6 separate regions of the Homo sapiens genome follow, and all the other regions are reported to be linked to region 2. Evidence: microRNA targets listed by miRTarBase, many of them from high-throughput screens and not tested one by one. Region 2 holds a microRNA gene; each other region holds the end of a gene's coding sequence. Distances are between the middles of the regions.
Evidence for each region. The annotated mature microRNA hsa-miR-6504-3p reads CAUUACAGCACAGCCAUUCU and lies in region 2 at 3,106-3,125, shown strand. An mRNA with a match to its seed (bases 2 to 7 or 8) in the 3' UTR can be bound and repressed. Matches are read on the target gene's strand: a 7mer-m8 pairs with bases 2 to 8, a 7mer-A1 pairs with bases 2 to 7 and ends in A, and an 8mer does both.

Region 1 (5,066 bases), not on the chromosome of region 2:
TAAGATCCTTTTCAGTAGGGGATGGATTTGGTCTATCTGATGATCAAGAGTTCAGGGTGGCCTTTGTGATAGTGTTACACCCCCTCCCAGGTCCAATAAACAGTCTTCTGACAAATAATGGCCCTTCCTTTTCCTTCCCCACCTGTCCACCACCTGGTAATGTGATGTAAGCGTGGCAAAATCCCACACACCCCTTCCAGAAATCCCAGGACTCGTGTGGGAAATACTGTCATAATTAAAGCCTTCTGAGAAATTGCTGCTTCTTCCTTGAACTTACCTACTTTTGAGCGGTCCTTTAATCCTGCATTAAGGGGATACCCCCCCAAAAATGGTTCTACTTAATTATCCCCCCTTCCTCACTCCTTTCTCCTCATGAATCAGGCAAGCCTTTTTTTTTTAGATGACCCAGATGCCCAAAGCAATAATTACATTTCAAGGGTATTTTTTAAGAGTATTTATTCCAAACACAATGTTCACTTTAAATGCAAAATAGCTGGTAGAAAAAAAAACACTGAAAAATATACTGACCCTTTGCCCCATATACAGACATCAGCCTTTGGTATTTGCTTTCAGGTAATTAGGTAAAACAAACAAACAAAAACTTGAAACTATTATTTATCTCCAAGAAAACAACGTAGAGTTGAGGTATTCTATTTAACAGATGTGATCTCCATCCAATAAGGTCTCTCTGTTAATTAACAGCCTTGTGACATGCTGTTCCAATCCTTTCCTCCTAAAGTAGAATTTCATTTGAGCATATGTTCATAAAACTGACAGTGTTCCTTAATAATCACTAAGGTTGCCATAGAAACTCCCTGGTGCTGGTGCCCAGCCGCACGGAGGACAGGAGGCCTTCACAGGGCACTGAGGAGGGCCTGGCACGGACCCTGAACTGGCCCGCCTGCCCCTCCGTGTGCAGCCCCTGCCCACGGCTGCACGGGACAGCTGGGTGCAGGGCTCTTGCCTCAAAGGGTCACAGGTTGCCCCTGCATCTCCAAATTAAGACCACCAACTCCACCTGGAGCTGGTGTCAGCATCCTCCCCACCTGGGTTAGCCTTCTGGACGTGCTGTGAGATAATAGAGCTCAGCACCAAAGCAGCTGGGAAGACATTCCTGAACATTCTCCAGGAAACAAACCCATAGACCACAACATGCCCAGCCTGCCCCACTGGGCCCTGTTCACTACCAGGTGGGCTTCCAGCCTGGTTCCAGCAACAGATTCCACAACCTGCCGCGGCAACCAGTTTCCTTTCTCCCAAGACAGCAGGGAAGTGCCAGAGGCTCCGTGTGAACTCAGAGCCTGATAAAGAAAGCGTAAGGGCAAGTCCCCATCAGGGCCAAGAGCTCTCTGAGTTACCAAAGGCCTCGTCAACATAGCCAGTGCTACCCCTGGACACATTTCTTGAAAATATTTCATTAATGCTACAAACATTATTGATCATTTTACTTTAGGCCTTGAACCAGCATATTTTTTACTTTCCCCACCCAGCAGGATAAGCTGTCGTATTTAACCTAAATGGTCTCTGTCTCAGCGTTTCACGTCTGGCTGCGTGGCAGATGGCTACAGGTGTTAGGCAAATAACAGCACTGCTGGGGACTCAAGGCAGTGGGGGTGCTGCAGAAACACAGGTAGAAATGCCCCGTGCATTGAGACACATGTTCAGTCACCACAGATTAGAGAACATAGAGAGCTTAGGATGTATACCTGTGTACGCTGAGCCAGGCCTACAGCCCAGAGAAGACATTTTTTCTTCATTTACATTAGCTTATGAAAAATAAAGGGAAAACAACCCTCTTCAATACAAAAACAAAAAAACAAAACAAAGCAATTCCATTACAATAAAAATGAAAGCAATAACAATTTGGAGATCAAAGCTGCCTAGCTCTTGGCAATAATGAGCTATCTGGATTTCACATCTTCCGCTAGCATGGTTCTGCCCGGCTTTGGTAACACCACATGTGGGTAAAACGGTATAAAGAATTGAAGAACTGTGGGCACAGAATCACCCTTACTGCAGATTCTCATTCTTAATATTTCCCTTTAACAGCATTTTGCTGTTCTCAAGTCTCAGAAACTTTATGTGGTGGGATGGGAGGGAACCACCATAACCGCCTGCCTGCCTTTTTTTTTCTTAACTGTTATTGTTCATAATAGAGATGGTGTCTCACTATGTTACCCAGGTTGGTCTCAAACTCCTGAGCTCAAGCAATCCTCCCACCTTGGCCTCCCAAAGTGCTAGGATTACAGGCGTGAGCCACCGCGCCCGGCCATCCTGCCTTTTTGCCAACCTAAGATGAGTTGCCTCAAGCAGCAATAGGGTCTAAAATCTACAGACAAGCCCAGCAATGAAAATCACGGCTTACTGAAGACAGTAACAGCTTAAACCTGGAAAACCGTAAACAAAACATGGTCACTTTCATCCTTTCGCACCTGTCTGGTGATGGTGGTGGTTTTTCTAAGAGGGTAGAGTATTAGAAAAGTTTTGTGGTCTGGTAAATATTGGGTCCATGGTTACACGGCTGATTTAAATCATATCCCCACTCTGGAATACCCTGATAACTTGAGAGCTAACTGGGTAACCACTAACACCACTGAATTTTCAAAGCTCGGACAGAAAAGTCAGCTGAAGTGGTTAATCATGGTGTTACAACTAGACATTTAGTCCTGCTTCAATTCTTGCAGAGCTGAATCAACTCAAGGAACTAAATAAAAAGAGGAAGGCACCGAGGTAAGGGATTTTTTTTAAATGGGATTTTTTTAAAACCTCTTTGATAGCAGAAAGCTCAGGGCTTTCAGGGTGGGGAATTTCTAGGACCCTGCCGGGCAGTCGTGGGAGGCTTCCTTCTCGGCACTGGGACAGGGACCGGACACCCTCTCCATAACCACCTGGGGGAGTAGTCACACGCTGGTTTTTCCCTAGAGTAGAGAAGAGGCAGGCTATTTTTCCACTTTTTAAGACAAAAACAAAATACAGAATGAAACCACAATCTCTTCTCTAATAGGGAAAATATTTTTTCTTTTTCTTTTTCTTTTTTTGAGACAGGGTCTCACTTGCTCTGTCACCCAGGCTGGAGTGCAGTGGTGCAATCTCGGCTCACTGCAGCCTTGACCTCCCAGGCTCAAGAGATCCTCCCACCTCAGCCCCCCAAGTATCTGGGACTTCAGGCACACTCTACCACACTTGGCTAATTTTTATGCTTTTTGTAGAGATGGGGTTTTATCACATTGCCCAGGCTGATCTCAAACTTCTGGACTCAAGTGATCCTCCTGCCTCGACCTCCCGAAGTGCGTGGGCCACCATGCCTGGCAGGAAAATATTTTTTCTCTTCCTCCTTTTTCACTTGACTTGGTTTTGGGCTAAACAAAGTTATGGTGCTTCCCCCACACCTAAGTAAGTTACTTCTATGCTGACACAGCGAATATTGGATATTCCACCCTCTCAAGAGAAAACAGTCAGCAGTTTTTTAAAAACCAAGTTTAAACACATTCTTGCCAGGCTCATTTTTCTTTTCACATTGTCTTCCTTAATATTATCTTCCCTAGTTACCCAGGTTCAGCTGACAACAAACAAAGCTGCAGTAAAACCGTTTTGATCTCAGAAATGGCAGAAGCCCTCCCTGCTGCTAGCTCTCCTTTGTGGGAGGTGGAGAAGAGAGAACATTGGTTTTCAGAGGCTGTGATCCCCCACTCAGCTCCCACTCTACAGGGGATGGTAGAGACCCTGTGCCCCTCTCCTCTCCTTCCTCTGCTTCTCACCTGAGGTCCTGCAACCCAAAGCCAATGCAGTTGCCTCTGTATTCAGCAAATGCCTAGGATCATCATTCACATTTAGCAAAATGCTAATGAGGAACTAATTATAATTCTGTTGAAAACGACCAGGCCCTGAGATACTGTATTATTCACCCACTCACCCTCAGCTGTTTTTCAACTGTAGGGAAGAAAGGGAGGAGAGAGCTTCTTCCCCCAGCCTTGGCGGTTTAAGTAAAAGCCGTCCCCAGGCCTAGAAAAACAGAATTTGCTAAGGCACTTGGGTTTTAAGAGTTTGAGTTGGAAGATGAAACGATGCAGTGGGCCAGGAGCATGGCGGCTGGAGGAGGCTTTGGCTGGAAATCCATCCCACCTGCCTGAGGGTGCAGCTTGTGCAGAGGTGTTGAGGGGTGGGCTGCCAGCCGCTTCTCCACACCGAGGCCCCCACCAACCTGCCCAGCTTTTGAGTGTCCGTGTGAGTGTCCAAAGAGTCTTGATATGGTTCTCTTCACAGTGGCCCAAGTTCACTCTAGCCCCTTTAAGCTGGGCATTTGGAAAGGGAGGTTTGAAACCTCAACCAGCTGAACAGCTGGAGCAGGCTGATTTTCCCCTGGCGTAGAACCTTCCGCAAGGCTCTTCCGTGAAGCCAAAGGCCGCACACCCCTGAGATAAGCTGGCATGGCAGTGAGAAGCATCTTTTGCTGAGCCCGTTTGTGTTTTATCATCCACAGGGTCCAGGCTGCTGGTGCCACCCAGCCAGCTATCTGGGGAAGAAGTAGTCTGTATTGCTGATGTCATAAGGGCTCCGTGGGTCCCTGGCATCTGGTCGGTTGTGGCTCGAGGTATTGTCAGACCCCAGGCTGCTGGGGGACACCGGTGGGGAGATGAGAGGAACAAGCACTGGGGTGGGTCGAGGCCTCTCCGGGACCAGCTGCCCCAAAGAGTACGGCGGATGCATGCTTGTCTTGCCTTCCTTCAGAGCCCGCAGCTTCCACGTCTTCTTGAACCTTCACACAAACACACAAAGACAAACCACACAGATTTTTAGCTCCCCCTGTGACAAGCCCACAGTGGAAAACACCAACAGCTGGCTGCCCTGGTGGCCTGGCGCGCCCAGGTTTCGGCTCAAAGGAGCAATAACTATCAGCTGTCTTTTTGTTTTTTGTTCATTTGTTTGTTTTGAGACAGGATCTTGCTCTGTTACCCAGGCTGGAGTGCTATGGCGTGATCTCAGCTCACAGCAGCCTCAACCTCCTTGGGCTCAGGTGATTCTTCCACCTCAGCCTCCTGAGTAGCTGGGGCTACAGGTGTGTGCCA
Region 2 (5,072 bases):
CTGGGAAGCCTTAGAGGGGACTTCAGGCATTGCTGGATCCGGGGGTCAGATGACATCATTAATATTGGGCATCTCTCTCTCCATCTCCTGGCTGTGCTTCTGTGTGCTGGCTTCATTGGCAGAATCTCACCATGTGGTAGGAAAGATGACCCACCTGCAGCCCAAAGCCACATCCTTAGAGGCTGTAATCCTTAAGAGTGAGCGCCCTTTTTCTTTCCAGTACCTTTTACAAAATCTCATGGAAGATCCTGATTGGCTCTGCCGTGTTCCCATTCAGCCCCCAGGAATTCACTCCCCCGGATTACCCGCCCACCCTTGACCTCAGGCAAGGCCCAGGTCTCGGATTGGTAGCCCCACCAGGACCACACAGAGGCGGTGAGGTGCGTCCACCAAGAATGGAGAAGTGACTGACAAAAACCACGACCACGGTCACACATACATAAGACATGTTACATCATGTCAGGGGAGCCAGCCAATTTTCAGAAGGAACCCCGAGTCTGAAACCCCTCATCTAGAGAAAATTTACTCTCTTATCAGTGGGAAGAAGACCTGCCTTGCTTTTTCTTTTGGGATCATTTTATTCCTAACTTGTTTTTCCAGGGAAACCTTCTCTTAGCCCAAAGAGATGCTTTCTAAAAACCTATTTTAGATCTAGCAGCCACTGGATTGTGTAACAGCATTGGGCTGAGAGTCACCCAGTCTGGGCTCCAAGGAATGCTGAGCTCAGTAGCGGAGCGTAACAACTTAGCATTGTTAGAAATGTCCTGTTTCTTACTGTCATCTCTCAGAGGACTCTGGAAACCACGCCTGCCCCAGTCTGCTTTCTTCTTAGTGAATCTCTCACACTCTGCCCTCTACGCTTTTCTTTTAACCCTGTCCCCACACCCCCACACTGTCCCTCCCCCCCTCCCCACCACAGCCAGCAAAGCCTTCCTCTTCTTTCTTTCTCTCCTCTCATCTTTATGATAGAGGTCAGTGTCACCCTCCTGCCAGACACTTCTGCCAGCTCCTCTGCCTCTTCACTCGCTCCTTCTTGCCCATCCGATGGCTGCAGCACAGAGTCCATGAAGGGGGTGGTCAGTGCCAGCCCCCCTCGGCGGGGGAGATGGGGCGGGCAATCACAGGGTTCAGTGGCCAACGGAGAGGTAGGGTAGCCAGAGATTGTCCTACCCCAATGACTTTGCTGTAGTCACAGAGCTTTGAGGCAGCCTCTCCCCTGTGCTCGGGGAGGCCCCATGCGTGAAGAGCCCCTCAGCCCCTGGGGAGACAGAGCCATAAACAAATGATTACGGAAATAATGGCTAAATTAGAGGCAACCGTGGAGGACTGGGAGCCCAGAGAAGGAGGAACTTATTTGGCCTGGGGGGCCAAAGCAGGCTCCCCAGACAGGGGGCATTTGAACTGGGTGTAGAGGGATGAGTAGAAGTGTGCCAGAATGGTGGGGTGGGGGCACACTCCCCGGGCAGAGGGGATGTGTGTGCAAAGCCTGAATATGGGGGACCTGGGTACTTGCTGCAGCTGGAGGAGATGGAGAGATGGAGTTTGGGGCTGTGGATATGTCTAGATCTGTTGGGCGATGGCCAGATCACCCAGGCCTTGCCAGCCAAGTGAAGAAGCCTCAGACCCTCTTCCAAAGGCAATAGGCAGCCACTGAAAGCTCTGAAGGGGTAGAGGGACACTAGAGGAATCAGTGTGGTGGCAGGGCAGAGGGGCCTAGATCTGTGCATGACAGAGAGGCAGGAGGGAGCCCCTTGAAACATTCCAGTTGGAGGAGAGGAGGCCCTGAGCCTCCACTTTCCTGCTCCACCAGCAAAGGGGCCTCATTCCTTCTGGGGCTGGAGGGGCAGCCCTGGCCTCCAAAGGAGGCCAGAGCATCACTCGCCACAGGGATGGAGGGGCAGTGAGGCTGAAAAGCAGAGAAGCAGTGCCTGGAATGTCCCTTTAACCCGGCTGTGGCCGCGGGCCCAGCTGTGATGACTCGCCTGGCCGCCGTGTCTGGCAGGGCTTCAGGACAGAGCTGCCGCCGTGGTGCTGAGGAGCCGAGCGGGCGGGGAGCCTCTAGCTGCTCCAGCATCCCACTTGCTCACTGCCCCCTGATCCCGTGGACAGCGCAGTCAGAGGCAGGAGCAGGAGAGGAGGAAGCAGAGGAAAAGGAGGAGGAGGAGGCGGCTTGCAACTCCTCAGATCCAGAGCCGGACTCCGAGCTAATGAGGGAGCAGCAGACACGGCCTCCCAACCCTTCCCCCAAGGGGAACCCAGGTGGGTGCAGCCCCTGCCCCTGGCGGCTGTGGTTCTCTCCCTGGCTGCCATTTCCGTCAGGGGAGGTAGACCTGGATCGGCTTCTCCCTTGCTTCCCTCTCATCCTCACCCCCACACTCTGCCCACCGTGATGCATGGGTGGTATGTAGCTGGCTCATTCTATAAACAGGGCTAGCGAGTCTGTGTGGTTCTAGGGAGGCTGGGGCGGGGTGCACTTGGCCCCTGGTGTGGTACTCAGGGCTTTCTTCAGTCCTGGTTGTATTCACGTGCCTTTTGTGACGGGTGGCAGGACCCTCTGCTTTGAGAGGCTGTACTTTGTCTTGATTCACATACAACATACTGTATTAGATCCCAGAGCCGTGGTGTCACAGAGAACAACCCCTTTGGCCCTGGGGACAGATCTTCCCTGCTCCAGGGTGGGAGAGGGGACCAAGAAACAGCCAGGTGCCCATCTGAACGGCATTACCTTAGTGCTCCTAGTCAGCAGATGAGTGAAAGTGCCTTAAATGGTGCCGCCCGGCACAGCCACCAGCAGCCACGCATGGCAGCCCACAGATGGATTTAATTTACTCATCAAATTAATAACACAGTTCCTCAGTCCCGTTAGCTACACCTCCAGTGGCCAGGGGCCACACATGGCCAAAGGCTGCTGTGTTGGACAGCGCACATAAAGAACATTTCCATTGACACACGAAGTTCTGTGGAGCAGTGCTGACCTCGAGGCCTTTTCATTTTGACCTCATACTGCAGGCACCTGAGCCCCTCCTGGGGCGAATCACGTCAGATCACAGGGGGCTCTTCGATCTTGCAGTCTGGCTGTGCTGTAATGCAGTCTGCACCCTGCTGCATTACAGCACAGCCATTCTCTCTACAGACAAGGGGAATGGCGGGGCCCAAAGAGGGCTAGTGCCCCTTCCCTACCCCAGCCTGCCTGATCTCTCTCCATCTCTGTCTCTTTCAGGTTCTTTGCATCCATGTGTGTCTGTTTTCCTCTCTCTCATGCCTTTTCTCCATCTCTCTCCCCTCCTTCCCCTTCTGTCCCCTCCTGCCTCTCCTCTTTCTCTCTCTTTAGTCCTTGCTGTGGCTCACTCTGGGCTTCTCTTGCAGGTCCTTCCTCCAGGCCTCTCACCACCTCTGAGCCTGTCCCCCAGTCCTCTCTGTGTGTCTCTCCCCTCTTCTCTTCCTCCTCCTCCGCTCTCTCTGTCTTCTAAGGAGCTCTTTGTAAAACTCTTACTTTGTTAGAATTTGAATCAATGCCTCTTGCAGACCTCGGGGAGCTGACCTGATCCTTCAAGGAAGGCAGAGAGGACATTCAGGCCCATGCCCCTCATCCCCAGCTCAGAGACAGAGCAATCTACCAGCAGGTTGAGTTGGCAGACAGAGGCGCCCAGCCTTCCAGCGTGGGTCCAGTTGGTGTGTTTTGGATGCTTTGTGTTTTCAGCGTGAGCTCCCTCACTGCCATGTTATTAGAATCCCTCGTTGCAGAAAGGGCCTGTTTATCCCATTTCCTCCATTGATGCCCTTTCTGCTAGCATTTCATTGTGGGGAGGCCAAGCATGTAAGTACATAGACAGTGTCATGAAAACGTCCTGAAGGTGCTGTCACTGGCCCCTGGGATGGGGTAGCAGGCATTAAAGAGCAGCGCGGCGCAGATCATCTTCTGGGGGATTCTGCCTAAAAATTGAGTGGCTGCCCATCAGCAAAAATTAGACAGAGCCGCTGCTCCACAAACAAGGCTTCAGGCAAGATAAGAGCAGGGAGACCCTCCTCCCAAGAGTGTCTGCTTCTTTCGGGGATGGGTTCCGGGACTCGGCTCTTCTCACCAATGTTCTGGAAAGTCCTGCAGGAGGCGGGGCAACTGTTTACCCCAAACATTGGCAGCAGGGCAGGGACGGGGTGGGTTCCTTTCTTACTGGAAGGTAGCAAGCAGGACTTTTCCGGTCTGGAAAGCACCAGAAAGGTCTCACTCTCTAGCTTCCAGTAAGAAAGGAAGCTCCTTTTCCCTAAGAAACTGGGCCGGGGAAGGGGAGCTTGGAAAAGGTCGCTCACAGCGCACCCTGGGCTGTTTTTCTCACCTCTCAAGACAATGCAACAATGAGAAAGAACTTGGCAAGTTTGGGAGAGGAAATTGGGCAGCGTTTGCCTGGAACCAGGCCCTTTCAGCATTCCAAAGATTTAACACCAGAAGTCGGAAGCCTGGAACCAGCTGCCCGCAGGCTTCCGGGGGACTTGGGGTCTGGCTGGGGACCTCTCCCATGTCTGAATGGATTCTCCTCTGAGTGACCCTCAGGGTTGGGCTGGGGGACCTTTCCCAGGTCTGAATGGATTCTCCTCAGAGTGACCCTCGGGGTTCCAGCCATGCCTTATGTTCCCACTGGGCTGAGTTCTCTTGGCTCAGCCACCAGCAGGACAGTATGGGGACTCTGCACAGAAGCGTGACCCTTCCCCCAGCTGGAACGCAGCCTGGTCAGCTTTCCCTTTGCTTGGAAGCCCCTTAGAGATGCCTGTGCTGGGACTCAAGACATTGCCTAGCAGCGTATGTCCTCCTTCAAAAGTAGACAAGCCAAAGGAACGAGCAGTTTACAGTCCGGCCTTGTCCCAACCTTTTTGGCTCCATCAGCCTCCACCTGCTCTCCTAGAGGCAAGTTCTGGCGCTTCCCTTAGTTTCAAGGTGAGGTCTCCTGCGTGCCACATCCTTCCTCCTCCTGCTTCATCAGTAGGGCAGCTACCATGGAGAAATAATGCTCACGGATGTCCCAACCCAAGTCCTGGGAATCCAGAGGAGCTCAGATGCATTGCTTCATGTTCCAGGG
Region 3 (5,072 bases), not on the chromosome of region 2:
AAATAGAGTCATTGAAGTGTATGTATAAAAATAAAATGGTGAAAGCTAAGATTTATGCGCTCTTACCATTTTGATCTTGTTTTCAGTGAATACCCTATTCAGCGGTCAAAGAAAGATTCTGAGGGAATAGAAATGGGAGTCGCAGGTTCTGTAAGCCTTCTGCAGAATGTTACGTTGTCCACCCAGCCCATTTCAAGTTTGGATTGGAGTCCAGATAAAAGGGGTCTCTGCGTCTGTAGTTCATTTGACCAAACGGTGAGAGTACTGATCGTTACAAAGCTCAATAAAATTTGACTTCAAGACTTTGGACTTGAGGCTGGGCACGGTGGCTCACTCCTGTAATCCCAGCACTTTGGGAGGCCGAGGCGGGTGGATCAGAAGGTCAGGAGATCGAGACCATCCTGGCTAACATGGTGAAACCCCGTCTCTACTAAAAATATAAAAAAAAATTTGCTGGGTGTCATGGCGGGCATCTGTAGTCCTAGCTACTTGGGAGGCTGAGGCAGGAGAATGGCGTGAACCCGGGAGGCGGAGGTTGCAGTGAGCCGAGATTGTGCCACTGCACTCCAGCCTGGGCAACTGAGCAAGACTGTCTCAAAAAAAAAAAAAAAAAAAAAGACTTTGGACTTGAAACCTTCCAGAGGAACACTCACACAATTTAAGATAGGTTCTGGAGTCCTCTGACCCTCATTGAACAAAGCTGGATTTGGCTGATGATAAAAGACCCCAGCCACAAGCCTCTGGGCCAGCCTCCAGCCTCTCTCGGGGCTTGTTTGCTGACTTGCTGCTGCACGTGGGTATCAGAAGCACCAAGTAAACTATCTCCAGGGCCAGTTCTTTTCTCTCCCTTCCATTTCTAAGTCAATAGTTGTCTATAATTAAACATATTTCAGATTTGTTCTGTGTCCCTGAAGTTCCATATTTTATCTTTATGCTTGTGTTATGTTTTAGTGTCTATAATGTTGTGGTGGGAATCATTTCATTTGGTTTAAAAGAGTTTGCCTTGGAAAAACTGAATTAACCTTCATAAATACATTTTGAGAGATTTCAGTGTGAGTAATTTTCTGGACATAATATTATTGTATAAAATATCAAAATGGTGGGCCAGGCGTGGTAGCTCACGCCTGTAATTCCAGCACTTTGGGAGGCTGAGGCGGGTGAATCACGAGGTCAGGAATTCGAGACCAGCCTGGCCAACATGGTCAAAACCCGTCTCTACTAAAAATACAAAAAATTAGCTGGGCTTAGTGGCGGGCGCCTGTAATCACAGCTACTTGGGAGGCTGAGGCAGGAGAATCACTTGAACCCAGGAGGTGGAGATTGCAGTGAGCTGAGATTGCGCCACTGCACTCCAGCCCTGGCGACAGAGTGAGACTCCGTCTCAAAAAAAAAAAAAACAAATATATATATATATATCTCTCTCTCTCAAAACGGCACGGTTGGTCTAGATTTGGGTAGCTATTTTCTGCAATTTAATTCATAAAACAAAATGCTTTGATTTTAAAGAGCTCTTTTTTACTTAAAATACAGGAACTGAATTGGTGAGACTTTTGGTTTTTGACTGTGGTAAGTGATGGTGAAATGTACAAGATTGTAGGGGTTTTGTAGTCTTATTTTTGGTCATACTTTAAAAATGCATTTTATGAATAAACTTCTGTTTTTGAGATCTACAGAAGCTTTGATTCTGTTACCTTAACAGTAGTAATAAAGTTAACATTGTCACATCATTTTGCTTTATAAATGCTTAATTAGTAGTTTTAATTCACTTTGTTTCTTTAATGTTCAACATATCTTTAGCTAAGCCTTTTGGAATTATTGACTTTACCACATTTTCATTAAGCCTACCCTCCCCCACCTCCATTGAAGAGAACGCAGCCACCTAAAACATTCACAATATGTAAAGTATATGTGATTTCAGGGGATCATGGAGAGTCACTTATTTGGAATATTAAGTTAAGAAAATTAAGGTTTTTTTTTTTTTAGTTTAGAAAATTTTTAGAAGTCTCTCTTAGAACACTTGTATTTGGTAATAGAGTCAACAACAATAAATACCTGTATTTTATTAAATCTAAGATGTCATCAATATCACTGATGCTATGCCATTCAAGAAAACGGAGCCAACTAAAACATTCATAATATGCAAAATTTATGTGATTTCAGGTGATCATGGAGAGTCACTTATTTGGAATATTACGTTGAGAAAATTAAGCTTTTTTTTTGTTGTTGTTTCCAAATTTTTTTTTTTTTTTTTTTTGAGGCAAATTTTTTTTTTTTCTTGTTCTGTCACCCAGGCGGGAGTGCAGTGTCATGATCTCGGCTCACCTGCAACCTCTGCCTCCCGGGTTCAAGCAATGCTTCTGCCTCAGTCTCCCGAGTAGCTGGGATTACAGGCATGCACTACCATGTCCTGCTAATTTTTGTATTTTTAGTAGAGATAGGGTTTCACCATGTTGGCCAGGTTGGTCTTGAACTCCTGACCTCAGGTGATCCGCCCGCCTCAGCCTCCCAAAGTGTTGGGATTACAGACGTGAGTCACCGCACCCAGCCCCAATGTTTTATAGAACAATGGGATATAATTATGAAAGTAAAAATTAAATTGAACTTTTAAAAAAGTTTATATCTACTTTTTTTTAATTTGCAAAGAAAAAAATGGAAAATTTGTGGAAATCTCTCCTAGGACACTTGTATTTGGTAATATAATAGAATCAACAACAATAAACACCTGTATTTCATTAAATCTAAGATGTCATTGATATCACTGATGCTAGGCTGGTATGATGAAACTGTGATAAAATCCTTTCTTTTTATCACTATTTGCTTTATATTAATTGAGTGTTCTTTTAATTTTATTTACACATAGTTTTTTTTCCATTGTGTATCACTTGTGTGCATCCTTAAAAAGAACCACATAAACAGGAGACTATTATTCTAGGTAAGGTAACTCAGGAATGGAAAACCAAACATTGTATGTTCTCATAAGTGGGAGCTAAGCTATGAGGATGCAGAGGCATGAGAATGACACACTGGGCTTTGGGGACTCGGGGAAAGATGGGAAGGGTGTGAGGGATCAAAGACTACAAATCAGGTTCAGTGTTTACTGCTCGGGTGATGGGCGCACCAAAATCTCACAGATCACCACTAAAGAACCTACTCATGTAACCAAATACCACCTGTTCCCCCCAAACTTATGGAAATAAAAAAATTAAAGAAAAATTTATACAAAATAAATTTGGTATGCTATTCCTTAGATTCCTTCATATTCAGAGTTTAATTCTTCTAAATCACTTTTTGAATTCAGAGCCATCAGTGTTCATGGTTTTCCTTATAATATTGTCCTTTGTGCATAAAAGTGTTTGTGATGTAGCATTTCTTTAAAACATGTTCCACTATTGCCTTCAGGGTTTTCTTTCAATTCACTGACACTTCTTCAACATGTTTTTGTGTATACATACATGCAGGCAGTGACAACTGTCAAGACTGCAGCCTGGCTGACCACGATTATTTCAGTTCCCTATTGCTGTATAACAAACCACTGCAGACCTTCATATCTTAAACACTAACTATCATTTATTTTGCTTAGGAGTCTATGATTTGGGCAGGGTTCAGCAAGGAAGGCTCATCTATGCTCCATATAGCATGAGGCAGGCAGCTCTACTAAAGGCTGGTGGACCTGCTTCCAAGATGGCACTCACTCATATTGCTTGCAAGTTGGTGCTGGCTGTTAGCTGGGACCTCAACCAGATCTGAGAAGCAAGGGCTGAGCTCGCCACATGGCATAGGGTTCCTGAGCATGGTGGCCAGGTTCCAAGGGTGAGCATCCCAAGAGAAGACCAGGCAGAAGCTATCTTGTTTTTTTAATGACCTATCTTCATAATTTACTTAGCAATCACTTTGCCACACTATTAGTTGAGGCAATCACAACCTCCTATCCCAAGTGCAAGGGCAGAGTACATACATTCTACTTCCTTTTTCTTTGTGTGTGTGTGTGTGTGAGACAAGGTCTTACTCTGTTGCTCTGTTGCCCAGGCTGGAGTGCAGTGGCACCATCATTGCTCACTGCAGCCTCAACCTCCTGGGCTTAAAGAATCCTCCCACCTCAGCTACCAGAATAGCTAGGACTACAGGTGTATGCTGCCACACCCAGCTAAATGTTTAAAATTCCCTGTGGAGATGAAGTAAATTCTACTTTTTGATGGGGTCTTGGCTAGGTTCTGAAAGAGCATGTGAGCTGGGCGTGGTGGCTCACGCCTGTAATCCCAGCACTTTGGGAGGCCAAGGCAGGTGGATCACCTGAGGTCAGGAGTTTGAGACCAGCCTGGCCAACATGGTGAAACCCTGTCTCTACTAAAAATACAAAAATTATCCGGGCGTGGTCATACACCCCTGTAATCCCAGTTACTTGGGAGGCTGAGGTGGGAGAATTGCTTGAACCTGGGAGGCGGAGTGTGCAGTGAGCTGAGATTGTGCCACTGGACTCCAGCCTGTGCGACAGAGTGAGACCCCCATCTCAAAAAACAGAAAAAAAAAAAAAAAAAAAAAAAAAAAAGCATGTGAGACTTGAAATACTGTGGCTAGTTTTGGAAAAGACAATCTGGTGTAGTGATTATAAGATGCATCCTAATTTCAAAGATGCATAAATGGGCAGAAGGATGTGCTCATTTGAATTGATGAAATACATTGCTTCAAATGCAGATACTCCTATCCCATCTACGTACACCCTTCCCTTCCCCTAATTTATTGCAGACATGACTAATCAATCATGCCACTCATTCTTCCTGAGCCTCAGAAGCTTTATCACACTCTGCTAGGAGCCACTACCAACTGCTGGCAAGTGAGATAAAATGGGTTTACTCTCCTGAATCTAGAGAATGATGCCCTGTGAAAAACAGGTAGCCTCCTGGACCAGGAGTCATTGGACTCTCCTCTCTCCTAATCCGTGGCTTTGTGTTTCAGTATGCCAAGAAATGATGAGGCTCTCCAGCACTAGACCATGTAAACCAAACTGATGCAAAAACCAAAATGGCGCATCATTCATATGTAGTGAGGGATGAACCCTTAGGTGCCAAAATGCC
Region 4 (5,072 bases), not on the chromosome of region 2:
AACGTCGGGGGGAAGCTCTATACAACCTCACTGGCGACCCTGACCAGCTTCCCTGACTCCATGCTAGGCGCCATGTTCAGCGGGAAGATGCCCACCAAGAGGGACAGCCAGGGCAACTGCTTCATTGACCGTGACGGCAAAGTGTTCCGCTATATCCTCAACTTCCTGCGGACCTCCCACCTTGACCTGCCTGAGGACTTCCAGGAGATGGGGCTGCTCCGCAGGGAGGCCGACTTCTACCAGGTGCAGCCCCTGATTGAGGCCCTGCAGGAGAAGGAAGTGGAGCTCTCCAAGGCCGAGAAGAATGCCATGCTCAACATCACACTGAACCAGCGTGTGCAGACGGTCCACTTCACTGTGCGCGAGGCACCCCAGATCTACAGCCTCTCCTCTTCCAGCATGGAGGTCTTCAACGCCAACATCTTCAGCACCTCCTGCCTCTTCCTCAAGCTCCTTGGCTCTAAGCTCTTCTACTGCTCCAATGGCAATCTCTCCTCCATCACCAGCCACTTGCAGGACCCCAACCACCTGACTCTGGACTGGGTGGCCAATGTGGAGGGCCTGCCAGAGGAGGAGTACACCAAGCAGAACCTCAAGAGGCTCTGGGTGGTGCCCGCCAACAAGCAGATCAACAGCTTCCAGGTCTTCGTGGAAGAGGTACTGAAAATCGCTCTGAGCGATGGCTTCTGCATCGATTCTTCTCACCCACATGCTCTGGATTTTATGAACAATAAGATTATTCGATTAATACGGTACAGGTAAAAGGACCCCAACAACACTGGAGATGGGGAGTCCCAGGAAGCTCATGTCAGCCAGGTCTTGGAGGGCATCTCGCCAGTGGTGCGAGGCAGGGGACTATACTAATCTGTATTAATTGTGTAGCAGGACTTGATTCCCCCCATGATGAAGTCCACCTTTTGGAATCCAGTGTCCTCTGAACAGAACCACCTTTTTTCTTGCCATTTTGAGCTGCAGACAGGCGGTTTATTATGACAAGTGAAGAGTCAGCTGATGTGTACTAAAGGAGGCCATAGGAGGATTTTCCAGCCAGGACAAAAGAGCAGCAGTTTTCTCCTGGGCTCCATCTCTCTGTACCGCTAGCCAGTGCCGCATTTATCCATCTGTAAGAAGGCCCTGGTGGAGAGGATGGGATGAGAACAAGAGGCTACCTCCAGTTAACCAGGACATAAAGTCCCCAGCGGTTCCTGTCACACCTGCTCCTCCCTCCCCAGGGTGCATCCATGATCGTGGATGTTTGCCCAGGGGTGACCATGTTTGGCTGGCTTGGAATGCTGTGCATTCTCAGAGCTCTGTTAGTGTCCCCTCTTGGGGGTCAGAGATGAGGTGTGGCAGGGTCTAGAGGAATGAGTGTCCAGGCAGAGTTCAGAAGGTAGGAATGTCCCTCTTGATAGGGCTGAATCAAGGGATTCCTGGCTTTAGAAAGGGTCTGCTATCTTTGCAAAAATGTGCAAGTATCTGTAGCCAGTGTAATGAAATCACTTCCAAATCCAGCCTGTTACCTGACTTTTGTCATTGTTTTCCCAAAAATTTGAGGTATCATTGAAACAGGTCATTTTAAACAAATCTATTACGGATTCTCAGGGTTGGAAATAATTCGATGATTGCTTAGTCCTCCCCCACCCCTAGAACACCCCAGCACATCTGAAGATGAGCGCCTCTCCCTGGGTACCTGCAAGTGATCACCTTGGCCTGCTTGCATACCTTGGCTGATAGGAAGCGCGCCATCCCCAAGGCAGCTCCTGCTGTGGTTGGACAGTGCTGACTGTTAGACAGTTCTTCCCTATATTGAGCCAAAATCTGTCCTGCCACTTGCTGGATCTTGGTTGCAGACCTTCCCATTCACCCAGTTATATATCTTTGCTTTCAAAATAGTCACCTTGAGAGACCAGACATTTTTCTGAAAACATCATTACTCAGAATTCAGATTCCCCTCTGGGATCTGTCTTCAGAATCAAAGTTAGCTCTTTTCTATCCCCTGTAAGTCAGTCCCCTTTTGTTGTAGCTTCACCTCGTTTGTGACCCCCACTTCACCCACCTTCCCCACCATCTGTGGCTCCATATACCTTTCGACCATTTTCTGCTGGAAGAGGAAGATTCACGGCCCCTGAGGAGATCCAGAGGAAAGAGACGGTCTCCAAGGGTGCTGTGCAGCAAGGAGCCCAGGAGTGGTATGAACCGTAACAGTGCCCTTAGAGTAAATGTGCGGCCCCTAAGACCCTGCCCTCAGGAAGGCGGCCTTCCCCTGCAGTCCTGTGTCCCACCCCTGGGTCTCTGTAGGGTGCCATCCAGGGCAAGCAACCCAAGCACTGCTTCCCACCGGGTGATGAGCCATGCAGGCCTCCAAACTGCACGTCATGATTCATCCCTAAAGTGAGTTTGGCCTTGAGAGTCCCCAGGGTCCTCCCCCACTGGGCAGGGGTCCTCAAAGCCAAGGAAGCCTGGTGACACAGGCACCCATGGGAGGTGGGCCCAGAAAGGGGCTTCCCATAGATAGGCCCTGTGAGTAGGGAGCTTGTACACTGGGCCATGGGCAGCGCCAGTTCCCTTGAGCAGTAAAGGCCCTTTTCCCCCTACGGTGGGACCCAGGAGTCTCTCTGACAGCTTTTCTGCCAGGCACAGTGGCTCATGCCTGTAATCCCAACACTCTGGGAGGCCGAGGCGGGAAGATCACTTGAGGTCAGGAGTTCAAGACCAGCCTGGCCAACATGGTGAAACGTCGTCTCTGCTAAAAATACAAAAATTAGCTGGGTGTGGTGACAGGCGCCTATAACCCCAGCTATTTGGGAGGCTGAGGCAGTAGAATCGCTTGAACCCAGATAGCAGAGGTTGCAGTGAGCTGAGAGTGTGCCATTGCAGAGAGACTCCATCCCAAAAAAAGACAGCTGTCCCAGGCCAAGGGTACTTGGGAGAGCCCCTCATGGAGAACCTAGTTTAGACCAAGTAGCAGAAGCTGTGGTCATAACAAAACAATTTGAGGAAGAAATCTTACAAATCACCACTGCCCTTTCTCCTTTTCCATAAAACTGTCCATCTTTTCGGTGCTCCCTAATCCAAGCAGCTTGACTTTAGAGAAGTTGCAGAAGCAGTGAAGCCACTAACATGCTGTGTGACTTTATGCAAGTCACTCACCTCACTGAGCCACCTCCATTTCTTCATCTGTGAAATAGGCATAACAGTAATACATAACCCTACCTACCTCACAGGGCTGTTGTGAGGATCAAATGAAATAATGTAACGTGAGAATACAGTATAAATGATAAAGGATTGTTATTCTTTTGTGTCTGCTTGTAACGGGGAAAAACACTGGTCTTGAGTCACAGTGACTTGGGTTTGAATCCAGAGCTCCAAGCCTCTGTAACCTTGGACAAGTCATTGAACTTCTCTGATTTGTTTGCTCATCAGGTAACAACCCCTTCCTCCCGGGGTTATGCAACTTAAACGAGTTGGTGTCTGTGAAAATCCTGAGCTGGGCCTGGCACCCAAGAGCTCAGTGCTCTTGCAGGAGGTAGTCATGGTGGACTCTGGTGGGGGACTAGGAGTCCCAGGAGAGTGGAGTTTAACAAGCCCTTACAGAGCATTTGCTGCGTGGGCCCTGAGGATGTGAACAGCCACGAGTAAGCTAAGTTCAGCCTGGAGAAAGTTTAGAGCTTCACACAACGTGCTTTGGGAACTCAGGGAAAGGGCTCAGTTCTCAGAAGGAGCCTTGTGGATGGCCAAGGTGGGCCTCTGAGGGTAGGTCAGGCTTGACAGAATAAGCAAGAGAGTGCCGTGGGCACAGGGAACAGCAAGAGCAGAGCTGGCAACCAGGCAGGAAGGGCAAGCAAGGGAGGGTATGCGTTCACACCACAGCTGCACAAGGGGAAGGGGGGCACGCAGTGCATCTCGTTGCCTGCGTCCAGGTTAGGTGAACTCAGCCTTCTGCTTGGCAAAAGCATGAGAAAGACGGAGAACAAACGTTCAGCAGTGATGGCAGCACCATCGACAGACGGGTGAGTCTGAGTGCGAACTGTGAGCAGGGATGTGCTGCTTGTGAGCCCTTCATTGCCCTGGGTGAGACCTTGTGGTGATCTCACCTGGACCCAGTTTAGCCTTTTATCCCGCCAAGGGCTCCATCCCAGCTGAAGGAGCAACGCCGGGAACACAACACTCGTCAGCTCTCAGTTCCTGCCCTAGGTGTGGTCCCCTGCATGCAGAGGGACAGAATGGGTGCTTGAGGGAACCCTAAGCACCCACCTTGGTGTGACTCCTTCATGAGGCCCACCACCAAACAGGGACCCTGCATGCTTGAAGGCCAGCAGCAGGCACCACTCTGACCTCATGCCCTCAGCACCTCCAAAAGCCCTCCACCCTCTTAAGAAGGGCCTAGCCTCATGACCCTGGTCTGCCTTTGGGCCAGATCTCCCTGTGCAGGGGTGGCCAAGGTCCCCACTTGCCCACACCTCAGAATTTGCAGCCTAGGACGCAGCCACTCTTTTGTAAACTGCACCCTAAATCACACAGCATTTGTGTAACCACCCATTCACCCCAAACTTCCAGCTTCCTTTTACAAATTACTCTTAAAACAGTCTGACTTTGGGAGGCCGAGGTGCGCGGATCACGAGGTCAAGAGATCAAGACCATCCTAGCAAACATGGTGAAACCCCGTCTCTACTAAAAATACAAAAATTAGGCATGGTGGCACATGCCTGTAGTCCCAGCAACTTGGGAGGCTGAGATAGGAGAATAGCTTGAACCTGGGAGGCGGAGGTTGCCGTGAGCCCAGATTGCACCACTGCACTTCAGCCTGGCAACAGAGTGAGACTCCGTCTCAAAAAAACAAACAACAACAACAACAAAATAGTCATCAGGCTAGGTGTAGTCGCTCAGACCTGTAATCCCAGCATTTTGGGAGGCCAGGGTAGGCGGATCACTTTAGGTCAGGAGTTCGAGACCAGCCTGATGAACATAGTGAAACCCTGTCTCTACTAAAAATACAAAAATAAGCCAGGCATAGGGGTGCGTGCCTGTAATCCCAGCTACTCGGGAGGCTGAGGTACAAGAATTGCTTGAAC
Region 5 (5,072 bases), not on the chromosome of region 2:
GCCCTTGGTAAAGGGTCTGTGAATGAACAACTATGAATGCTGCTTGCGGCCAGTCCAATTGTCCTACCTACCAATCAGGAAGCCAAAAGCCCCATTGCAGAGCTCTGGCCCAGCAGACAGAAAAGCCGTTTTCTTCAACTACCACGTTACTCTTGTCTTCACTTAGGAGATCCAGTGAGCTGTGGGACATCCAAACCGGGAGATATTAGTGGACGAAAAGCCCTGAGGAGCGGGTGCTCTGGGTTGTGTTTTCCACCCTGCCGCAGATTCGGCCTGAGCTATGCATTCTTTCCCCACAGATGCTGAGCAGGGTGATTTTGCAGAGACCCCGGTGCCCCAGTTTGTTTGTGCTCACAGCCCAAATAATTTTAAGCAGCACTTAATGAGTGATCAGATGCAATGTCCTTTATTCAAATTTGGTTTATACATTTGATGATTATATGTGTTTGGGGACACGCACCAAAAAAATTCTCTCTTCTATTTTTCTGACAGGGTTGGAGCATGCAGCAAAAATATAATGATGAATTAAGTTTAAGTTTCAATGGAAAATTCTGTAAAATTGCAAAATGTCATCATTGCCATACGGGGGGAGCTAGGGAAAGGATACTGCACCCTTAGAGGCAGAAATTCACAAATGTACACACCCCCGAAGGTGGATTAATAGTTCTTCCAAAGTCTTCTGGGGTCCCTCACCCTAACACATAAATATGCAGTCTTGAATGAACAATTAGGAGATGGTGGCCCCTTTAATTTAATGAATTTCTTTAGGAGGATGAAGCCACAGATTCTTTATGAAAGCCATAAAATAAAAGGGAAGGAGAAATGGAAGATTACTTGAGACCCATTAGAAAAATAAAAAGCTTTCTTGGTGGGGGGACGGGGGCAGTACATGTCAGTAATCCCTTGAGCAGCAGGACTGAAGGTTTAGGGAGGAGTCTGGTGTCCCAAACTGCTTATAACACAGACAAGACCAACTTCCACATGTTCAGGGAGCAAGCAGCAACTCCCAACAAGAACATAATTTACTCTCATCTGCTGATTCTGACCCAGGGATGTTCCTCTAGCCCACTTCAGATAAAGCAGGCAAGTAGCTAGGACTGAAACATGACATAATCCGAGGTATGAGGTGTATCTGAGGCACAATCGCCACTCCTTTTCAAATATGCACAATGCCGGTCATATCAAGCCATCTCTCCCTCCTCTCTGCTCATTCCTGAGTCAGCCATGAGGTGAGTTGTGATTTCCTAATGGTGTCCTGAACCAAAATGCAGGACACCCAGGACACCATTTAGACTTGCCAGGCCCACGGAGATGACAAAAAACTCAGCTCAGCATGGAATAACGTGAGCTGCGCACTTCATCGACAGCCTGCGTGTCAGAGGCGGGGTTACATCCCCACGGCCTGGGGCAAGGCCCACTCCCTAAGCCCTCAATTATGAGCAGGTTCTGTGCTATCAAGAAGACACACAGCCAACAGCCTCATTTAGGCTCTTGAGCCTTTGGAGGACAAGTCAGCTGTATCCCAACCCTCCCTAGCCTCCTGGATCTCTGCTTCTCTCTGGGCAGGAAATTGAATACTCTCCCAGCAAGATCACACAGACACATCCATGGAAGAAGCTGAGATGAAACATGACTCTCATAAACAGGAACTTTATTAAACTACATGTTACATAAAAGAACATATAAATGGACCATTAAATACATTCAGTTTATTTTAAACAAATTTACATAGATACTTATTTACATTTCTCCATTGTATTCTTAAATTATTTTTCCAAGCTTACTACCGATAAAAGGTAATACAATGATCATCTGCTCACACAGATGCATAGAGAAGTTGTCCACAGGGCTAAGTAAAGCACCACTTCCCAGGAAACACAGCTTATTAGATCTTCCAGCAACAACTCATGCTGAAGGTGCTCTCTTCTGAGCAGCCCTTGAGGTGAGGCTTTTGCTTTAGAGATGCTGGGGGTTGGTTCTGAGGAGCTGACCCAGGGCAGAGATGGGTCCTTGCTGATTGACCTGACTTGGACTCACAGAGGTGGAAAGACCTGTGGAGACCATCATCGAGGCCATGGCCCCACATCTGTGATATGGGAAACAGGCTTGGGAAGAGGTGGTGACTTCCCAAAGTCACCCAGCATCCATGATAGAGGAAGGGCCTGGGAGCTTGGTACCCAGGGTTCCTCCAAGAGGTCCCGATCCCTCTGCTATCCACAAATCCACAAACTTAGAATCACTTGCATCCATTTTCCACCACCATGGACCTTATGCTTTGAACTGTTTTGTCTACCTGATTAAATATATAACTTCTTAGGCTTCTTGAGATGGTGAAAAGCAGCTCAGGATTCCCATAAGCAACTTTGTGGAGCCCTGGAAATACCTACTCAGGGCTGTTTTTACAAGAGGTTTTGTGGTCAGGTGCTTTACTATTTCAGCCATAACGTTTACCTTTAAAACTCAGCTGACTTATGGAAGCTCAGCATTTCCAATTCGCTTAGATGACAGGCAACAGTCTGCAGAAGGGAGGTTCTAACGTCAACCACGTGGATTCCCCACAAACGCATCATATTTGCCTAAATCCATCTATCTACCAATGTCAGATCTAAAATGAGGTTTCACTAATAAGTGACCTAAAATTAAAAAAAACACAAAAAAGTTTCTTAAAAAAAAAATTCCAAGAATTTCCCCGTTTCCCAATTAGTCTCAGAGGAGTCGTGAAATGGGCATTGGGTAGAAAAAGTCCCATGTTTTCAACTGTTTCTTTTGAATAAAGCCTGATTCCCCCACTCTGCCCCCGAACTTTTCCCGATGATATACATTCTTCTGAAAGCAATTTCATGCTTTTAGTCTGCTTTAAAAAACCTGACTTGGTTCTTCTCAGTATTTAAAAACCACTGTACCAAGGAAGAGATGTCCACGTTAAAAACTATTATTAAGAGACAGAGACAAGGAGAGAGAGACTCTCTCCAGGCCATGTTAGAAAAGAAGGAAGTGCTGGGAGCACACAAAGAGAGAAGAAAGGCTGGGAGACAGAATGGTTTGCACCTCCCTGTAACCAGAGTGAACACAGGTCATAGCAGCCTTCACTCAGTTTTATAACAGACACACGAATGGAGGAACATGGGATTGGAAAGACGCACACTGTCAAACAGCCCTGATGCCTTTCCACTAAAATATGGCACTTCTAGATTCCAGAGAAATCCAGCATTCTACCAGGGGCTGCCACCCATCTGCAGGGAAGCCTGCCCTGCAACCATGAGGCCCTCAAGGCTCATACTCCACTGCTCACAATGCGCGCCCTGAATACATGGAAGCATCTGATTTCTGTCTGAGTCCAACTTTCCCTCCTGTTCCTAGACAGACTCACACCCAGAGTCATGCACGGAGAAGTGGGCAAGCCAGACAATCTTCAGGGAGACACAGCCCATCACAGGATACCCAAGGCTTATGGGGAAGTCCAGTTGCCAGCAACGGACCCTGTGTGGGCAGGTGAAACTCTGAAGCCAGAGAACACAGGAAGATAAAAATATCTTCATACTGAGGATATACTGGCCAAGTGTGGTGGCTCACACCTGTAATCCCAGCACTTTGGGAGGCTGAGGTGGGAGGATCACTTGAGCCCAGGAGCTCGAGATCAGCCTGAGCAACATAGTGAGATCCCATCTCTACAAAAGATAAATTAAAAAAAAACAATTAACCAGGCGTGGTGGTGCACGCCTGTAGTCCCAGCTCTGAGGGAGGCTGAGGTGGGAGGATCACTTGGGTCTGGGAGGTCAAAGCTGCAGTGAGCTATGATTGTGCCACTGCAGTCCAGTCTGGGAGACAAGAGCACGACCCTGTCGCAAAAAAATACATATGTATTTTTTTCCTGGGAGGCATTTCACTCTGCAAAAGGAACCAAAACTAGAACATTTCATTTTTGTTTTGTTTTGTTTGAGACAAGGTCTCACTCTGTCATCCAGGCTGGAGTGCAGTGGTGGGGTCCTGGGCTCAAGTGACCTTCCCATCTCAGCGTTCAGAGTGGCTGGGGCCACAGGCATGTGCCACCACACTCGGCTAAATTTTGTATTTCTGATAGAGACGGGGTTTCTCCATGTTGCCTAGGCTGGTCTCGAACTCCTAGGCTCAAGCAATCCACTCATCTTAGCCTCCCAAAGTGCTGGATTACAGGCATGAACCACTGCACCTAGCTAATTTTTATATTAAAAAGAAAGTCTTTGATATATAAAAACTGGCCTGAAAAAAACTTTTTTGACTTGTTTCATAAGAATGTCACTTTACACTCCTACTAAATCTTTCTCGGGATCCGGGCTTTGGGGGAGGGTGGGGTGCATGGGGGAGGTGCGGCCGTCACAGTAGTGAACGTGCATCCATCTGGACGCTGGACTGCAGCAGGGCTCAGCACAGCAGGCTGCAGTCCACAGGCCTCCTGGACTGTGCCATCCCAACAGCGTCACTAGCAGTGGCACCAGTGGCTGCTTTATCTGTAACAAAGACATGCTGCCTCTTTCCCCATCCTCGTCCCAGAAGTCAGTCTTCACCGTCTGAATCCCAGGAGGCAGGAGAGGACAGGCACCCATCACTTCCGTAAGGGATTGAGGATTCTCCCCAGCGTGGTCCGACTGGAGTCCTTCCGACGGAGGGAGGCCCTTTCCCCAGCCCCTCTGGCCTTCAGAGGGGCCTCCGTGTTGGCACTGGGACCCTCCGCAGACTCTGGGCGCTTCTTGGGGGCCCGGGCACTGCTGGCTCGCCTCAAAGTGCTGCTGTCCTTGGGAGCGGCATCCTCGGGGTCCCCTTTCACCCTCAGCTGCCGCTGCGACACTGTCCGAGTGATGCCGGGGGCTTTGGCCACGGGAGGAAGATCTGTTCTCATGCTTCGAGAGGAGGAGGCCACTGTGTTCCGGGCAAAGCTCGGGACACGGGGTAGTTCGTGGGGGACGCTGGGCACTGACGGGGTCTTGGGCTCTTCTTTGGGACTCTCAGGGCCCTCGGAGTGGGCGCGGCAGGTCTTATTTTCCTCAGGCTTCTGTCTGGGGAGGTTCCTGAGTGGTTTGGCACTGGGCTTCTTG
Region 6 (5,071 bases), 6.1 Mb from region 2:
AGGCCGACCCCGGCCTGCGCGTGGTGCGCGAGGTGTGCCGTAGCCACGTACGCATCGCCGAGGCCGCCACACTCAAGCCGCCACCCTTTCTGCGCGGCCGCTACCGCCTGGTGCGCTTCGAGGACCTGGCGCGGGAGCCGCTGGCAGAAATCCGTGCGCTCTACGCCTTCACTGGGCTCAGTCTCACGCCACAGCTCGAGGCCTGGATCCATAACATCACCCACGGATCTGGACCTGGTGCGCGCCGCGAAGCCTTCAAGACTTCGTCCAGGAATGCGCTCAACGTCTCCCAGGCCTGGCGCCATGCGCTGCCCTTTGCCAAGATCCGCCGCGTGCAGGAACTGTGCGCTGGTGCGCTGCAGCTGCTGGGCTACCGGCCTGTGTACTCTGAGGACGAGCAGCGCAACCTCGCCCTTGATCTGGTGCTGCCACGAGGCCTGAACGGCTTCACTTGGGCATCATCCACCGCCTCGCACCCCCGAAATTAGTGGAGGCCACAGTTGTAGCAGGCGCTAGGCCCGGGAGGAGAGTGCATGGTGCAGAGGGGGCTGGGGCGCACGGAGAAGCAGGTCCCTATATTGACCAAGGAGTTTGTGGTACGACCCCTCCCCCTCCCCAAGTAGGCAAGGACTGCACGTTTCTTTCTCTCTTGATTCTTGGTTTTCCTTTGAGTCCTCTGGAGCTGCCTTCTCATCAGGTGCACTCTTCATGGAAAGCAACTCTTGCCCCTCCTCCTCTGGGCACAGGGTGTGCGTTCAGATGACTTGGCTCCTACTCAAGGGCTTTCTTCCCCTTTAACTCTCTCCTTCTGGTGACACATCCTGCAGCAGCTGAGGGGGTGCCCTGGCACTGGCTGGGAGTGGAGAGGCACTGTGGTGAAATGGCTCCAGAGGTCTGTACATCACATACATATGCACACAGGCACACATGGCAAAACTCGGAAGTGAAAGGACTTGTCTGAAATCACATGGTGAGAAGGAGGATGAAGGGAGGAGAGAGCTTTTGCTCTGGGTCTCCAGTGGATAGGAGAGGACCTGCCTCCTGGGTGAGAAGGGTCAGATTTTCCTATTTTAATTGCTTTAGGGAAGAGCAAGCAGAGTCATGACCAGGGACACAGCTGAGAGATAGAGGAGGCTGTGAATGCTGAGACCAGAGTTTATCATGCTGGACAAGCCTGGAAGGAGGCAATAAGTGGGAAAGGTAGGAGGAGAGAAGGCTGGGGAGGGCTGGGCAGCAAGCCAGGCACAGTGAGTGGCAGAGCAAGAGGGGGAAAGCAGGATCAGTGCCTGGAAGGCAGGTGTGCCCGTCAGCGGGGAGTGGAACTCATCAGGCTTGCCAAGAGGTTGGAAGGGAAATGGCTCTGGGCTGGAACTGTCTTCCCTTGGTCCTTCTGGTCCAGGCCTTGGAGGAAAGCAGAGGATGATCCCTGCCTGTGAGCCACACCTCCTAGCTCTGGGGGCAAAGGGGCTTAGTAAAGGAATGCTGGATGTGTAGAGGGTTTAGTCCCGAGCTCAGGAAATGAGAGCCTATAAGTGCCCAGTACATGTTTAAAAGAAGAGCTCATGGAACCTCTGGAAAGGACAGGGAAGTTGAGTTAGCCACATAAATGAACCCAAGTCACATTGGAACACAGAGCTGGTCTGGGAACTGTGTTGGCTGCCAACAGAACTTCTGACCCTGTTACCTGTGAAATGAGGCAGTTTCCCTCACGTTGCCATCAGCTACCAGGAGCGATGCTGGTGGTCACTAGCTTCTGATCCTCATCCTGGGTGTGGCCACAGATTGGGGGAACCTGGATTGTGGAGTCACATCCTCCCTGCAAAGCAAGCAGGGCAAGGGAGATCTGGCATTTTCTGCTTTACGTGGAGGGAGAACAGGCACATTAGCCTTGAAGCTGAAGCTCATTTTAGGTTCCTTCCAGGTTTAGAAGCTTCAACCAAATGAAACTTGAATCTGTCCCTCGTGACAATTATAGGAGGAAGGTATTTAAAACCCCAGATTTATGAATGTGTACTACATGGCTTAGAGAATGTCTTTGTTCTTGTTCAGGTGGTTATAACAAAATACCTTAAGAGTGGGTAACTTGGCTGGATGCAGTGGCTCATGCCTGTAATCCCAGCACTGTGGGAGGCCGAGGGGGATGAATCACCTGAGGTCAGGCATTCAAGAACAGCCTGGCCAACATGGCGAAGCCCCTCCTCTACTAAAAATACAAAATTAGCGAGGCATGGTCGCACATACCTGTAATCCCAGCTCCTCGGGAAGCTGAGGCAGGAGAATCGCTTGAACCCAGGAGGCGGAGGTTGCAGTGAGCCAAGATCACGCCATTGCACTCCAGCCTGGGTGACAGAGCAAGACTCCATCTCAAAAAAAAAAAAAAGACTGGGTAACTTATAAACAAATGTTCTTCTCACAAGTCTGGAGACTGGGAAGTCCAAGATCAAGCCACCAGTGCTGTCTGATGAGGGCCCACTTTTTCAAAGACAGTGCCTTCTAGCTGTGTCCTCTTATCGTAGAAGATGGGAGACAGCTCTCCAGGGCCATTTTTTTTTTTTTTTTTTTTTTTTTGAGATGGAGTCTGGCTCTGTCGCCCAGGCTGGAGTGCAGTGGCACAATCTCGGCTCACTGCAACCTCTGCCTCTCTCTGCCTCCTGAGTTCAAGCAATTCTCCTGCCTCAGCCTCCTGAGGAGCTGGGACTACAGGGATGCACCACCATGCCCAGCTAATTTTTGTATTTTTGTAGACACTGGGTTTCACCATATTGGCCAGGTTGGTCTCAAACTCCTGACCTCAAGTGATCTGCCCACCTCAGCCTCCCAAAGTGCTGAGATTACAGGCATGAGCCACTGTACCCAGTCTCCAGGGCCTTTTAAAGAATGTCACTAATCCCATTCTTGAGGTCTCCACCTTCATTATCTAATCACCTCCCAAAGGCTCCACATCCCAACACCATCATATTGTGGGTTAAGATTTCAACCACAAGCCAGGCGTGGTGGCTCATGCCTGTAATCCCAGCATTTTGGAAGGCTGAGGCAGGTGGATCACTTGAGGTCAGGAGTTTGAGACCAGCCTGGCCAACATGGTGAAACCCCATCTCTACTAAAAATAAAAAAAATTAGCCGGGTGTGGTGGTGCACACCTGTAATTCCAGCTACTCAGGAGGCTGAGGCAGGAGAATCCCTTGAATCCAGGAGGCGGACAGTGCAGTGAGCCGAGATAATGCCACTGCACTCCAGCCTGGATGACAGAGCAAGACTCCATCTCATGCCCAGCCAGCATGCCCAACAAGCTTCATTTGCCCCTGTTTAGGTCACAAATTTTATTGATGGCTGCAATTAATGGCCTCTTGGTATCCAAGTCCTTTGTTGTATGACCCATCCATTCTCCCCTGACTCCCAAGGTGTCAGGACATGCTTGACTGGCTCCTGAATTTGCTCTCTGCGCATGGGCAGTACAGTCAAGCCTCACAGTGAACCCAGGTCAGCTTTCAGGACAAAGAAAGTGGCCTGGCTGACTAGGCACAGTAAAGCCAGGGCTGGGTAGGTACATACTTGTGCTGATCACGTATGTCTTATATCTCTGTGAGAGTGCAGTCCCAACAGGAAGGTTTAATCACTGGGGACTGCCCAATGCTGTGACAGGGCACAGAGCTCTGGGTTGCTGTGGGGGTGACTGCATTGACCACTGTTAGTGGTTTGCTGTGTTGACACTCTGTGCTGTGTGACCATGGCTCCTGCCATCAAGAAGTAGAGTCTGTTTCTCCACCTCTGAATCCAGGCTGGTCCTGTGACTTGCTTTGTCCTGTAGACAAGTGTAGTGCAACTTCCTGTGAGCCAGTTTGAAGCATAGGCCTTGGAAGCAAAACTTTACCTCCACCTGTCTTAGGTTTTCAGCTGGGGCTCTGCTGTGATTTGATTGTGTCTCCCAAAGTTGGAACCTTGATCCCCAGTGTTGTGAGGTGAGGCTTGATGGAAAGTAAATTACGCCGTGCGGGTTATGCCCTTGTGAATGGGTAGAGAACATTATTTCTGGGCGCAGGCATGGTAGCTCATGTCTGTAATCCCAGCATTTTGGGAGGTTGAGGTGTGCGGATTACTTGAGGTCAGGAGTTTGAGACCAGCCTGGCCAACAAGGTAAAACACCATTTCTAGTTAAAATACAAAAATTAGCCAGGTGTGGTGGCACATGCCTGTAAGGCCAGCTACTTGGGAGGCTGAGACAGGAGAATCGCTTGAACCCAGGAGGCAGAGATTGCAGTGAGCTGAGATCGCACCACTGTACTCCAGCCTGGGCAACAAAGCGAGAGTCTGTCTTAAAAAAAACCACCATTATTTCAGGAGTGAGTTGGTTATCCTGAGAGTGGTGCCTTTTAAATGAAGGAGTTCATTCTTTGTCTTTCTCTCGCCCTCACTTTGCCCTTCTGCCATATGATGCCTTCCATCATGCTAGGACACAGCAAGAAGGCTCTCGCTAGATGCTGGCTCCTTGATCTTGGGCTTCCCAGCCTCCAGAACTGTAAGCCAATACACTTCTATTTATTATATATGACCCTTGCTGGGTTCAGTGGCTCACGCCTGTAATCCCAATACTTTGCAAGGCTGAGGCAGGAGGATCACTTGAGACCAGGCACTCAAGACCAGCCTGGGCAACATAGTGAGACCCCATCTCTACAAAGTTAAAAAAAAATTAGCAGGGCATGGTGTCGTGCACCTGTAGTCCTAGCTACTTGGGAGGCTGAGTTGGGAGGACTGCTTGACCCTGGGAGGTTGAGGCTACATTGAACCATGATCATGCCAGTGCACTCCAGCCTGAGTGACAGAGCAAGACACCTATCTCTAAATAAATGACCCCATCTGTGGTATTGTTATAGCAAAACAAAACAGATTAAGAGAGACTTTTTAATGAAAAGACAGATTCACAAAGAAAAACAATGTTTTTGTTTCTGTTTTTTTGAGGCAGAGTCTTGCTCTTGTCCCCCAGGCTGGAGTGCAGTGGCGCCATCTTGGCTCACTGCAACCTCCGCCTCCCAGTTTCAAGCGATTCTCCTGCCTCAGCCTCCCGAGTAGCTGG

Region 1: miRTarBase lists IL6R as a target of hsa-miR-6504-3p. Seed matches in the 3' UTR shown: 7mer-m8 at 2,243-2,249.
Region 3: miRTarBase lists DNAAF10 as a target of hsa-miR-6504-3p. Seed matches in the 3' UTR shown: 7mer-m8 at 337-343, 7mer-m8 at 1,125-1,131 and 7mer-m8 at 1,259-1,265.
Region 4: miRTarBase lists KCTD21 as a target of hsa-miR-6504-3p. Seed matches in the 3' UTR shown: 7mer-m8 at 2,651-2,657.
Region 5: the mRNA of FHDC1 is a reported target of hsa-miR-6504-3p. Seed matches in the 3' UTR shown: 7mer-m8 at 4,167-4,173.
Region 6: the mRNA of CHST6 is a reported target of hsa-miR-6504-3p. Seed matches in the 3' UTR shown: 7mer-m8 at 2,108-2,114, 7mer-m8 at 2,242-2,248, 7mer-m8 at 3,005-3,011, 7mer-m8 at 3,141-3,147, 7mer-m8 at 4,056-4,062 and 7mer-m8 at 4,576-4,582.

What each region holds. Positions count from the first base shown.
Region 1 is chr1:154,464,824-154,469,889 of GRCh38, reverse strand. IL6R (interleukin 6 receptor) reads right to left here. Exons shown (of 10, transcript NM_000565.4): 10 at 440-4,756. The coding sequence ends at 4,510. It also overlaps a transcript of SHE not described here. Among named protein-coding and RNA genes, the nearest start is that of TDRD10, 35 kb to the left of the region's middle. RefSeq lists an enhancer at 4,424-4,925.
Region 2 is chr16:81,608,282-81,613,353 of GRCh38, forward strand. It overlaps MIR6504 (microRNA 6504), which reads left to right and starts at 3,067; the gene lies at 3,067-3,127. The region is part of intron 2 of CMIP (c-Maf inducing protein); the gene reads left to right. RefSeq lists an enhancer at 281-510.
Region 3 is chr2:68,126,460-68,131,531 of GRCh38, reverse strand. DNAAF10 (dynein axonemal assembly factor 10) reads left to right here. Exons shown (of 8, transcript NM_138458.4): 8 at 87-1,727. The coding sequence ends at 294. Among named protein-coding and RNA genes, the nearest start is that of DNAAF10, 29 kb to the left of the region's middle.
Region 4 is chr11:78,169,462-78,174,533 of GRCh38, reverse strand. It overlaps KCTD21 (potassium channel tetramerization domain containing 21), which reads left to right. Exons shown (of 2, transcript NM_001029859.3): 2 at 1-3,285. The coding sequence ends at 762. KCTD21-AS1 (KCTD21 antisense RNA 1) reads right to left here. Exons shown (of 3, transcript NR_102281.1): 3 at 557-714. Among named protein-coding and RNA genes, the nearest start is that of KCTD21, 17 kb to the left of the region's middle. RefSeq lists an enhancer at 194-695.
Region 5 is chr4:152,976,234-152,981,305 of GRCh38, reverse strand. It overlaps FHDC1 (FH2 domain containing 1), which reads right to left. Exons shown (of 12, transcript NM_001371116.1): 12 at 1,635-5,072. The coding sequence ends at 4,583. Among named protein-coding and RNA genes, the nearest start is that of FHDC1, 42 kb to the right of the region's middle.
Region 6 is chr16:75,474,058-75,479,128 of GRCh38, reverse strand. CHST6 (carbohydrate sulfotransferase 6) reads left to right here. Exons shown (of 3, transcript NM_021615.5): 3 at 1-5,071. The coding sequence ends at 488. Among named protein-coding and RNA genes, the nearest start is that of TMEM170A, 12 kb to the right of the region's middle.